2 linked regions of the Homo sapiens genome follow. The protein of the gene in region 2 interacts with the protein of the main gene of each other region in a pairwise test. Each region holds a gene or a part of one and is shown on either strand. Other genes may lie near its edges.

What was found. Proteins that work in one complex are often made in the same cells at the same time.
Region 1: the proteins of TRIM23 (region 2) and NXT2 interact in binary tests that used the Homo sapiens proteins (3 or more experiments, as listed by UniProt).

The regions. Positions count from the first base shown.
Region 1 is NC_000023.11:109,539,823-109,545,216, reverse strand, and holds the end of NXT2 (NTF2-related export protein 2), read right to left. Parts: intron 3,743-5,394; coding exon 3,598-3,742; intron 2,711-3,597; coding exon 2,529-2,710; 3' UTR 519-2,528; downstream 1-518. UniProt on the Homo sapiens protein: Regulator of protein export for NES-containing proteins. Also plays a role in mRNA nuclear export.
Region 2 is NC_000005.10:65,593,299-65,600,337, forward strand, and holds part of TRIM23 (E3 ubiquitin-protein ligase TRIM23), read right to left. Parts: intron 3,883-7,039; coding exon 3,753-3,882; intron 3,234-3,752; coding exon 3,123-3,233; intron 1,348-3,122; coding exon 1,223-1,347; intron 1-1,222.

The sequences.
Region 1 (5,394 bases), on a different chromosome or scaffold from region 2:
GCTTTCTCTTGTGGGCATTTAGTGCTATAAATTTCCCTCTACACACTGCTTCAAATGTGTCCCAGAGATTCTGGTATGTTGTGTCTTTGTTCTCATTGGTTTCAAAGAACATCTTTATTTCTGCCTTCATTTCGTTATTTACCCAGTAGTGTTGACATATTTTTAATGTAGAATTAAATTTAATGAACCATTCTTTCTGGAAATCAACTGTATTTTGGTTTCACTGCCTATCGAATATAGCATTTTAGCTGGTTTCTCAAGGTTAAGATTTCCAACTTCTCACCAAAAACCTACAGGTATCTCAAACAAGTGATGATCTCAGGAATGTGAATAATTGGCAGGAAAAGGAGACAGATGTGGCAGGTTACAGAAAGAACCAAAAGAAGATCCAAGTTGTTAACCATTGTTGTCAACACACTACTGTAATTTTTTTCTAAATTTAAAAAACCTTATATTGTAAAGAAACAAGTAACCATTCTGAAACCTAAGAACAAAAATCAAAAGACCTTAAAACAATCTTGAGAAAATCTGTCACAAGGCAAAATTTTATTTTTTCAAGTTACAAAAATAGGAGCATGTCAAAAATACAGTCTAGTCCTTATACGAGTAGTTCCAGCCATTTAAAAGTTATACAGAGTTTGGAAAAAGCAGTTTATATACAAGTCTTAAAACACAACAATCATGAACAATGCACACCGTTCAATGTAGTTATTGCTAGTTATATGCAGCTTTTAGTTACCATTGTTCTTCTCTGTAAGGGAAAGGACAGCATTTGGACATTCTGATTGTTGCTGCTGAAGCTGTGGTTTTGGAAAATCAATCCAAAATAAGAATAAGCTCACTATGAGTAGAATAAAACGTGTAAGTTTCAATCAGTACTACAAGAAAGCATGGTTTAAATTTGAGTTCCATACAATTCTACATAACTCTATTTTGTTACTATAACAGAAATACAGTGTATAGTTTTGGGCAAGAGTAAATGAATTACTGGTTTTATAATTAAGTGAAAAGAAACAGTTTTTGGTTGCAATGTAGAAACAAAGCTGGCATATCTAGCTTACAAACATTAAAAAATGGAAAAGATATTTAATGTTTAAGCAAAAGCTGAACCTAGGTTATTTACCTTTAGAAATTAAGAGATAAAGTTAAGCATTTTGTTCTTTTGAGGATTATCATGAAGATTTGCTATTCTCTATTTTCTTTTTAAAAAGAAGAGTTATCCACATAGCGGGAACATATTTTGAAACAGATCTATTTGCTCAATGTCATATGGAAGAACAAATCACAAAATTAAATAATTCTACCTTTAAATAATTAAAGATAATGCAGTTGACAGTACAAAGCACTGGGAAAAAATCACTTATTTGGGGGATGTGTGATACATAAGAAACTTTGGGCCTAAAGTTCACATGGAAGACTGGAAGACTTAAAATTTAAGGGTGTCACCAAAAGATAACAATGGCTTTGACTCCAACTCTCATGTTAGACCCTGTTAAAAGGTTAGGTTTATTGCTGTTATTTTACCCCAGTAAGTTATTGAATAAATGGAGATATACATTGGTGATAAGTATGAGGTGAAGTAAAAAGATCTAAAAATATTAGTCTTAGAACAAAAATGACACTCATGATCACTTGGCAAGGATACTTATTTACTTAGTGATTTAAATCCTAAAAATAAGCTACATTTTTAGGAGGTAGAAAACAAGTACCAATAGTTTACCATTTGGCCACCCTCCTTACTTTTGGCTTCAGCCTTGGATTTCTATTTCTCATTCCCTATTCTCCTGTTAAAGCTATTAGTTCTACTACCATTCATTACCTAAATGTATAGACCTGGAGCTGCCAAGAAAAATCTTTTTAGGAAGCTTTGCTTTTAAGCCACCAAATGCACCCAATACTCAGATATCAACTGAGAACGTTTTGCACCTCTCTAGTTGATTAATTTACTTCACACAAAAAAATGCCAAAACAAAAATTACTTAAAATGAAAAACGACCACTGAACATCTCTATATGCAATTCCAGTATGTCAGAGTAGTTATGTAAACCTAAATCTGTACTATTTTCACTGAACTGATTTGAAAAAGCCATATATTAAAATGGCATTACCAGTGTTAACTGAAAACAGGCAACGTGTTTTACTAGAAAATTAACCTAATAACCAAAAAACTCCACTTCTTCCCAGAGTGTTATATTGTGCTGACATCCCATAGATAATATTATAAAAAGATTTTATTTTTGCAATAGGCTGGGTTCACAGTGAGTATGTTAGTACCAAGATCATGTGTTTAATATTATTATAAGAATGTCATTAGTGGAATGTATATAAGGCATGTAAAAAAATAGTTTTAAAGCTCTTAGAGGGCAATGCTCCAAACTGGCAGCTGCTAGAAAAGGTGCTGACAGGAATAGAAAATATTAAAGAAATTTAGTTTCAGCACATATTATAGTGCTTCTACAATCAAAATAATTCACATAAATTTCAATTGCTGGAACTAATGGACCAAATGAGAATGGACTTTTGCCCCTTTAACTACTAGACCAATCTTGAAAACGGAAGCAATCACTTGCAATCTTCCACACAGTATTGTTGGGAGTGGACTGAGCAGTCAGCAGGAAGTTCTGGTTGAAGAAATGTTGTTTGTTTCCATCAAACTTCACAGTTCCACTGGTCACAACAAGAACTGTAGTTTGGGACTGAGTTGCTTGCTCTTCATCCACATTAAAAAAAAAAGAGAACACATCATTTTCTATCTCTAAATAAGCAGATTTTCAGGCTTAAAATACATTGTTTATGGACTAATGCTTAAAATTTTTTTCATACACTTTCTGTCCCTTGAGCATAATCTTAAGCATGCATACTCAAACCCAGAAAACTAAGTACTTAGTAAAAGATATTAAAATTATTTTCAGTCCAGAAAACTTTGGGATACTCTAGTTTCAAAATGAGGAGCTTATATCTAGCATAGGACCATTTGCTTCATATATATATAAATATTTCAGAATTAATATTTCAGGTTTCTAACAGAGCTTATTCATGCTTTGCTTCTTAAACTATTGTTCTTTTCAGGAATTATAAAGGAAAAAAATCACCCTGAACTACAATTTAAGACACTTAGGACCCCACCTAGAGGTTTTATTAAACTGTATCAATCTACCTGGAATCAAATTTTCTTGTAAAAAGTCATCCTTTCACATAACAGAGTAAATTTCTGTGAAATATTAGTAGATTGTAAGATACTGAACACATTAATCAGAGATATGGTATAATTTTACTCTGGAGACATTTCAGGGTCCAGCAGGCAACTATTTAGAGAAATCAGATAATCTTTCCCTGCCATTTACAAAAATCACATTAATCTCAACTTTTCATACAACTTTTAATAAGCCAAAATCACATAATCCATCAAAAGCTACTAGTGGAAAGAATCTGAAGGAAGACCAAAGTTTGACTGGACAGTTACATTTTTCATAATATTTAACTTGCTCAAGTAAGTAAATAGTTCTACCACTAAAAGTTTCTCGCTGCTTTTGGTGTAAAAGCTCAGTGCTTACTAGAGGAAAACAAAGGAAGCATCTTGAAAGATCATGATCTTACCATGAACTGGTTGGCAATCTAACATATTGACCTGGAACTCACTAGAAGGCAATGTGTCAAAAAAATTATTTAGGGCATCCAGCCCTGAAACAGCATTTCCATTCCATATTAAGGTGGCCTTGTCCAGATACAGCCTGGTTAGTGCCTAAAAAGAAAGACAAATTTAAAAAAGGGAAATAATTCTGTTTCTAGATAAACATTTTATAGAAATGGATTAAAATATTACAGATGGTATATAAACATTTTTTGTAGTTCTACCTTCATCTCCACTCCCCTTGCTCCATCTCCACTGGAAACCCATGTGAACAAAACGTCTGTCTTATAATCTTGGCCTTAAATAAATATCACCTTACTCTTTATAAACTAGGCAGTAAAATATATTTTTTCATATTTCACTTTAGACACAATAAAACCTTCCACCCAATTAAGTTCTGCTTTCTGTATTCAAATGAATTAAATGATCACAAATTCCAAGCAAATGCAGCCCCAAGCCAGTTTTAGTGTGTCTTCCTTTTGTAATTATGAGAATTAACAAAGTTTTTGATCAAGCCCTACCTGTACCCTTTAATGCTAGTGGCTATATATATATATGAAACATTTAATATTTGCATGTGTTAGAAAGAATTAGTTCACTACTCCCACTTTTTAGAGAAGAGGTTTATGTTTTCTTAAAAATTATTCTGTTTTTTAAAAAAATTGAGACAGGGTCCTGCTCTGTTGCCTCAGGCTGGTCTCAAACTCTTGGGGTCAAGAAATCCTCTTGCCTCAGCCTCCCAAGTAGCTGGGGTTACAGGCATGTCATACCATGCTCGGCTATAGTACTACTCTATTAGTGTACTTAGTTCAAAAGAATCATGAGTACTTGCTAAAGCAGAGACTTCGATAAGTCAAATAAGTTAAGGCCCAAATGAGGCAGAAATTCCACAGTTAAAACTCTGGGGTCACAAGACACACTATTAGCTTAATTCTATAATGTAACTTGGGTTAAAAGGCCAGGCAGGCATGGTGGCTCACGCCTATAATACCAGCACTTTGGGAGGCTGAGGCGGGTGGATCATGAGGTAAGGAGTTCAAGACCAGCCTGGTCAAGATGGTGAAACCCCATCTCTACTAAAACTACAAAAATTAGCCGGGCGTGGTGGCAGTTGCCTGTAATCCCAGCTACTTGGGAGGCTGAGGCAGGAGAATCGCTTGAACCCGGGAGGCAGAGGTTGCAGTTAGCCAAGATCGCGCCACTGCACTCCAACCTGGGTGACAGAGTGAGACACCATCTCAAAAAAAAATAAATAAATAAAAATAAAAAAAAAGGTCAACACATATATTGACACTGGTAATAAACAATGTTGTCTTTTTTTTTCTACTTTATTTTTTGAAAGCAGTAAGGTACAATACACATTCAAGGCAAGGCACAATAAACATCCATTGTCACAACCCTTTTCCCTGACATCAAATATCAGTACAAGAAACTTCTTTTATCTTTTGCCTTAAAAAATTGGTTTTCACCTGACAAAAACAAGCAATGGGGAAAGGATTCCCTATTTAATAAATGGTGCTGGGAAAACTGGCTAGTCATATGCAGAAAACTGAAACTGGACCCCTTCCTTACACTTTATACAAAAATTAACTCAAGATGGATTAAACACTTAAACGTAACACCCAAAACCATAAACCTAGGCAATATCATTCAGGACACAGGCATGGGCAAAGAGTTCATGACTAAAACACCAAAAGCAATGGCAATAAAAACCAAAATTGACAAATGGGATCTAATTAAACTAAACAGCTTCTGCACAGCAA
Region 2 (7,039 bases):
GTAGCAAGCACCTGTAATCCCAGCTACTTGGGAGGCTGAGGCAGAAGAATCGCTTGAACCTAGGAGGGGGAGGTTGCAGTGAGCAGAGGTTGTGCCACTGCACTCCAGCCTGGTGACAGAGCAAGACTCAGTCTCAAAATAATAATAGTAACAGTTGTATATAAGTCTGAGGATTATAAAACACTTTCATCTTTAACTATCTGATGAGCAGAAAATGGTATTTCACTGACTTATTTGCATGTCTTAAATATACCAGTTCTTAATAGTTTGCCTTTTTTATTAAGGGGAAAATTCTTTATTCTTCATCCTACTCTTCCCCTCCCATGACATCTCCTCTGCTCCACTTCTACTCTCCTTCTGCCTCTACTTAAAAGCATCTCATCCTCCTAGAAAGGCTCAAGGTCTAGGAATCTTCAGCTACTCCCAGTCCTTCATCCTCCCCATTCAGTCACCAGTTCTGCCTCAAAGTCTTTTCCATCTGCCTCCGCCTTTCTATTCCTCTAATTCAGGCTCTTGTTAATGCTCACTTGAATTATTTAAGCAATTTACTGCATCTCCCTGTCTCCAGTCCTTTGCCCTGATTCATTCTACCCCTAGAATTATAGTATTGAAACACTGATATGATCTTATTACCCACTAATCCAACATTTTGATGACTCCTCCTTGCTCATAGAATAAAACCTAAATTTCTCAGTCTAGCACTGTCAGACCTTTACAGCATGGCCTTGTCTGTTATTCTAAATTCTCTTCATCCTCTACTGAGACCTGACATATAGATCTGCTTGATGTTCCCTAAACTAAAAACATTCATGCTATTATCTTCTCTGTCTATAATGTTCTTCCTTTCACATACTGACTCAGCCTCATGCATAATTTCAACTCAAATTCTACATTTTACAATCTTACAACATGCCACATTTAGAACTACTTTCCTAATTCCCGTAACACTGTGTTACTTAAGTTACTTATCAGTCTTCTTCGTATTCAGATCTCTTATGTGTTCATATGCATACACAGGAGTTTCTGGTGAGCATTAACTACCTTATTTCTATTTTGTATACTCCCAGGTACCCAGCACAGCATTTTCACATAGATTGTACTCAAAATACACAGAAGAAACTATAAATATCTATTGAACTGATTGTCTTCTGAAATATTTCCAGTTGCCTTTTGACATGCACAAAACTACTAAAATAAATATTCCAATATAAAAATGCATTACCTGTTTGTTAGCAAAAATCAGGAGCAGAGCATCTCGGAGTTCTTTTTCCGTTAACAACTTTGCAAGTTCGCTGTGTGCTTCACTAATTCTGTCTCTATGACTGCTATCTACAACAAACACAACAGCTACCCAAAAAAAAATAAAAAAAACAAAAATAGTCACTTGCTAAAGTTCAGTAAATGAACCAAATATTTAATGATATCATTATTATGTTATGGTTAGAGTTTGTCTACCATCATTATTTTCACACAGAGGGTGCCTAGTATGGCAGGGGCACCTACAAATAATTAACAGTATGATTTCAAGTAGTTTACATAACTTCTCAGGTTTAGTTTCCCCATCTAGGAAAGGATTTACAACACTTGCTCTATCAAATGCAAATTGGTCTGTATATCAAATAACTTTTTACATAACGAATTTCAAAATATGCCTCATGATCCTCTACCTATGGATGCTACTTGTTCTTCGAATACTACTTTTCTAATATTTAGTCTTTGAATAAAAGACTAAAAGATAAAAACCATCACCATTTTTATTTCTCCAAAGTATTATGTCTAAGTTAACTATCTCCAGACTTTCAACCATTCCTCATATTCAAAATTTCATTTTTGTAGGGCACAGTGGCTCACACCTATAATCCCAGCACTTTGGGAGGCTGAGGTGAGAGGATCACTTGAGCCCAGGAGTTCGAGACCCCTGGGCAATATAGTGAGACCTTATCTCTATTAAAAAAAAATTAAAAATTAGCTGAATGTGGCCGGGCGCGGTGGCTCGTGCCTCTAATCCCAGCACTTTGGGAGGCCAAGACGGGCGGATCACGAGGTCAGGAGATGGAGACCATCCTGGCTAACATGGTGAAACCCCGTCTCTACTAAAAATACAAAAAAATTAGCCAGGCATGGTGGTGGGCACCTGTAGTCCCAGCTACTCAGGAGGCTGAGGCAGGAGAATGGCGTGAACCTGGGAGGCGGAGCTTGCAGTGAGCCGAGATCGCACCACTGCACTCCATCCTGGGCGACAGAGCAAGACTCGATCTCAAAAAAAAAAAAAAAAAAAAATTAGCTGAATGTGGTGGCATATACCTAGTCCTAACTACTTGGGAAGTTAAGGTGGGAAGATTGCTTGAGCCCAGGAGACAGAGGTGACCATGAAATGCAATCATGCCACTGTACTCCTGCCTGGGCAACAAAGCAAGATTCTGTCTCAAAAAAAAAATACATTTTTTCTATTAATTATGGCTCATAATAATATCAAAAATCCCAAAGTAAAAATAATTATTCAGTCTCTCATCTTGGTGGAAAGCAGAATAACATACAGAATAAGCGGCATGAGCGTAAGCATTATGTTGGGGTCTATGAGGCAGAAGTGTAGAGTAAGACCCAAATGTGACTAAAACCTATGTAGAGTATAGATATGATATAATACGGTTTGGTCAAAAGCAAGCTACTGTAAGTTCTTCTGCAGGTAATAACTATTTGTGAAAGAAATGTGGGAGTGGGGCTATAGTGAGATTATAATGGGATAAATGTTGAGTTTAACTGAATTCAGCAGAATCATACAACATAAATTCAACTCTATACCACTACGCTACCAGCAGTCACACCCATATAATACTGGTAATATACACTCTCTGTTAAGAGAAGCAAGAGTACTCTTAACTGACTACATATCTAAGCTACGTATGGTTTTTATTCTGTAATAATGGTATATCAGGAATAAACTAAAAGTATATATCCTAATCTTTCTACTTTCATTTTTTACAAGTTAAGAAACTGGCCACAGGTACTTAAGTATACAGTCAACGACTTAATCATAAGTATCAGCTTTGCTAGTTAAATCAGTACACTGAAAACTGTCATCCTAAAAATGTGAAAAATTAAATGTCATTTTTAACTCTCACCTTGAGTATTGAGGTAATAATGTTTCCACAATGGTCTTAATTTGTGTTTTCCACCTACATCCCAAATAGTGAATTTTAGATTTTTATATTCTACAGTTTCCACGTTAAAACCTGTTTTAAAAAAAAAGTTACTTTTATACTATATTTGTATTTACAATGAATGACATATCAAACACAGACAACCCCCAGTTTATAACTGTGACTTATCAAATTATCTACATGCAGCAATATCTACTGAAGCCTAATCAACCCCATTCCTACTCCTACGTGGTGAATGTATACCTGTAACAGCTCCTAGCCCTCTAAACCTCCACCAAGGTCCTTAGGACCTTGGGATCCATGTACCTTCCAGCTCTGTTCCACAACTACCCCCCACCCCACACCCTCAGCCAGGATCACCAATCCTCTATTCCTTCCAACTGTCCCACCAATACTCTGTTTCTTCTTTTTATCCCCATCCACATTTCAATCCCATAGTCATACAATCTTGCATTTTTTCTCTGAGATGCTGATATCTTAGAGCCAGAAAAGAGCCCACCACCATGACAGATCAGTATCAAATAAGACCCCAAGAACTTGGCTGTAAGCTAGGGTTTGTCTATTAAGGTAAAAACCAATATTCATACTTACCAATTGTTGGAATGGGCTGCATGAATTCATCCTGTTTTAACTTAAACAAGATAGTAGTTTTTCCAGCACCATCCAATCCTAACGTAACGACCCGAATTTCCATTTTTGGTCCAATGTGAACTCGATTATCCTACAATTTAAATATTTTTAAATATGTTTGACATGCAGTTAGAAAGTAATAGCATTTAGCACCTTTATTATTTCTACATCTCCTATTCATTCCTCAACCATTGCAATCTGAATTGTATTCCTCAAAATACTGAGTCTGATCTCAAGAAGATGAAATCCTTCCCCATGGCTAAATCTTGCCTTAGTAAAACTGACCACTTTGTCTTTGTATAACAGAATATACATACCCACTTAATTTTCTCAGATTTTCTAACTCAAATGAATCCTCTAAATCTTAAACATGTTTTTATGCTATACTAAAAAAATCACAATAAGGGTAAATCAATTAAAATGAAAAAGTGCTGCTCAATTCCCAGAAATTTCTACTATGAATCTGATGTATATCCCTCCAGACACTTTCCATGCACATACTGGCCAACATACACAAACAAAACAAATTTTTTTTTAAAAAAGTATTACCCACACATTGAAACTAATGTGTTTCACTCAACAGTATATTATGGAATCCTGTCAATACATATTGACCAACCTTTTTCTTTTAATGGCTTCTTTACATTTCATAAACCACAATTTAACTAAACCCCCAACTGATAGATTTTAGGTAATTTCTGATTTTATGATATTACAAATAATGCTATAATGAACATTTTTATATATTACTAGCTGCATGATTTCTCTGCTTCACTTCTTTCATCTCATAAAAGGAGGATTAAAATAGTACAAAATTTACATAGGATTCTTGAAAGGATTAATTTTTAAGAATACATATAAAAGTCCTTACAACAGTTCCCAAAATATATGTGTTATTTTTGCTTACTCCTTTGAGCACTCTTTGCTTGGATTTTATGATACAAACTTTTCCTGGTTTGGTTTTATCCCATTTTTGGATGTTCCTTCTAATTTTTCTTTAATCCAGCTCTTAAATGTTGGTATTCTTGAGGGTCTATATGAGGCCTCCTTCTCATTCTACATATTTTCATTCTCTTCATGAGCTTTAATTACCATGTATATTATGGCTCCAAATCTATACTTAAGTCCAGTTATACACCTCAGAAATAAAACAATATATGGAACAGAACTACTTCTGTGAGAACTCTAGAGAACAGTTAAGAAACTACAGCACCCAGGCCATAAAACCAAGAAGGCATTCCAGTGAAAGGGGTAATAAAATTTGGGGCATTCTGTGCACTCATCCCTGCCCTTCCCCATATCCAACATAGTGAGGATGAGGTGCAACCAGGAGGAAACTACAAAATACTAGCAAACTGAATTCAACAACACATTAGGCCGGGCGTGGTGGCTCATGCCTGTAATCCCAGCACTTCGGGAGGCCGAGGTTGGGGGTGGATCACCTGAGGTTAGGAGTTCGAGACCAGCCTGACCAACATAGAGAAACCCCGTCTCTACTAAAAATACAAAATTACCCAGGCATGGTGGCGCACGCCTGTAATCTCAGCTACAAGGAGGCTGAGGCAGAAGAATCGCTTGAACCCGGAAGGTGGAGAATGCAGTGAGCCGAGATCGCGCCATTGCACTCCAGCCTGGGCAACAAGAGCGAAACTCCGCCTCAAAAAAAAAAAAAACACATATTAAAGGGATTGTACGCCATGACCAAATGGGCTTTATAACTGGAAGGCAAGAATTATTCATCATCAATCAGCATAATACACAGAATGAGAGAAAAAAAGCACGTAATCATCTCAATAGTTGCAGAAAAAGCATTTAACAAAATTCAATACCCTTTCATAATAAAAACATTCAACAAACTAGGAGTAGCAGGAAACTGCCTCAGTTAACATACACCATATAAGAAATGCCCACAGCTAACATCATACTCAAAAAACTGAAAGCTTTTTCTCTAAGATAAAGAACAAGAAGATGCCCACAGAGCAATTAGGCAAGAAGAATAATAAAAGACATCCAAATTGTAAAGGAAGATGTAAAATTATATCTCTTCACAGATGACATGATCTTGTATGTAGAAAACCCTGAAGAGTCCACACAAAAAGACCTATTAGAATAAAGTCAACAAAGTTTCAGGATATAAAATCAACATGAAAATCAGTTGCATTTCTATACATTAATGATAAAAATCCCAAAAGGAAATTAAGGAAACAATTCTACTTAAAATAGCATCAAAATTATACTTTCAGGGATCATTTTTATAGTTTATGACTAAAGAAGTTTCTCTGAACATGTACAGAAAAAAAAGTTTAAGATACTTAGGAATAAACTCAACCAAGATGGTGAAAGACTTAAGATACTATGTTGGTGCAAAAGCAACTGCGGCTTTTGCCAGTACTTTTAATGGCAAAAACCACTATTACTTTTGCACCAACCTAATATGTAGGCGTACACCTAACCAAGATGGTGAAAGACTTGTACACTAAAAACTACAAATATTGCTAAAATAAATTAAGACATAAATAGACATTCCATGTCCATGGATTGAAAGACATAAAATATTAAGATATGAATAACAGCCCAGGTAATTTATATAGATTCAATGCAATCCCTATCAAAATCCCAATCATGTTTTTTGTGGAGATAGAAAAAATTAAGCTAAAATTTATAAGGAAGCTCAAGTGACCCTGAATAGCCAAAACAATTTTGAAAAAGAAAAAAGTTGGAGGACTCACACTTCCTTACTTCAAAATATATTACAAAGCTAATGTATTGTTCTGTTTTTGCACTGCTATAAAGAAATACCTGAGACTGGGTAATTTATAAAGAAAAGTTTAATTGGCTCACAGTTCCACAGGCAGTACAGGAAGCATGATGCTGGCATCAGCTTGGCTTCAGGGAAAGCCTCAGGAAACTTACAATCATGGTGGAAAGCAAAGAGGGAGTGAGGCATTTCACATGGCAGGAGCAGGAGCAAGAGAGAGGGTGGGGGAGGTGCCACACACTTTTAAACGACCAGATCTCATGAGAACTCACCTATTATGGCAAAGACAGTACCAAGGGGGATGATACTAAACCATTCATGAGAAACTGCCCCCATGATCCAGTCACCTCCAACCAGGCCCCATTTCAACATTGGGGATTACAACTGGAAATGAGATTTGGGCAGGAACATAGATCCAAGCCATATCAGCTACAATAATGAAAACTATGTGGTACTGGCATAAAGATGAGACATACAAACCAACAGAACA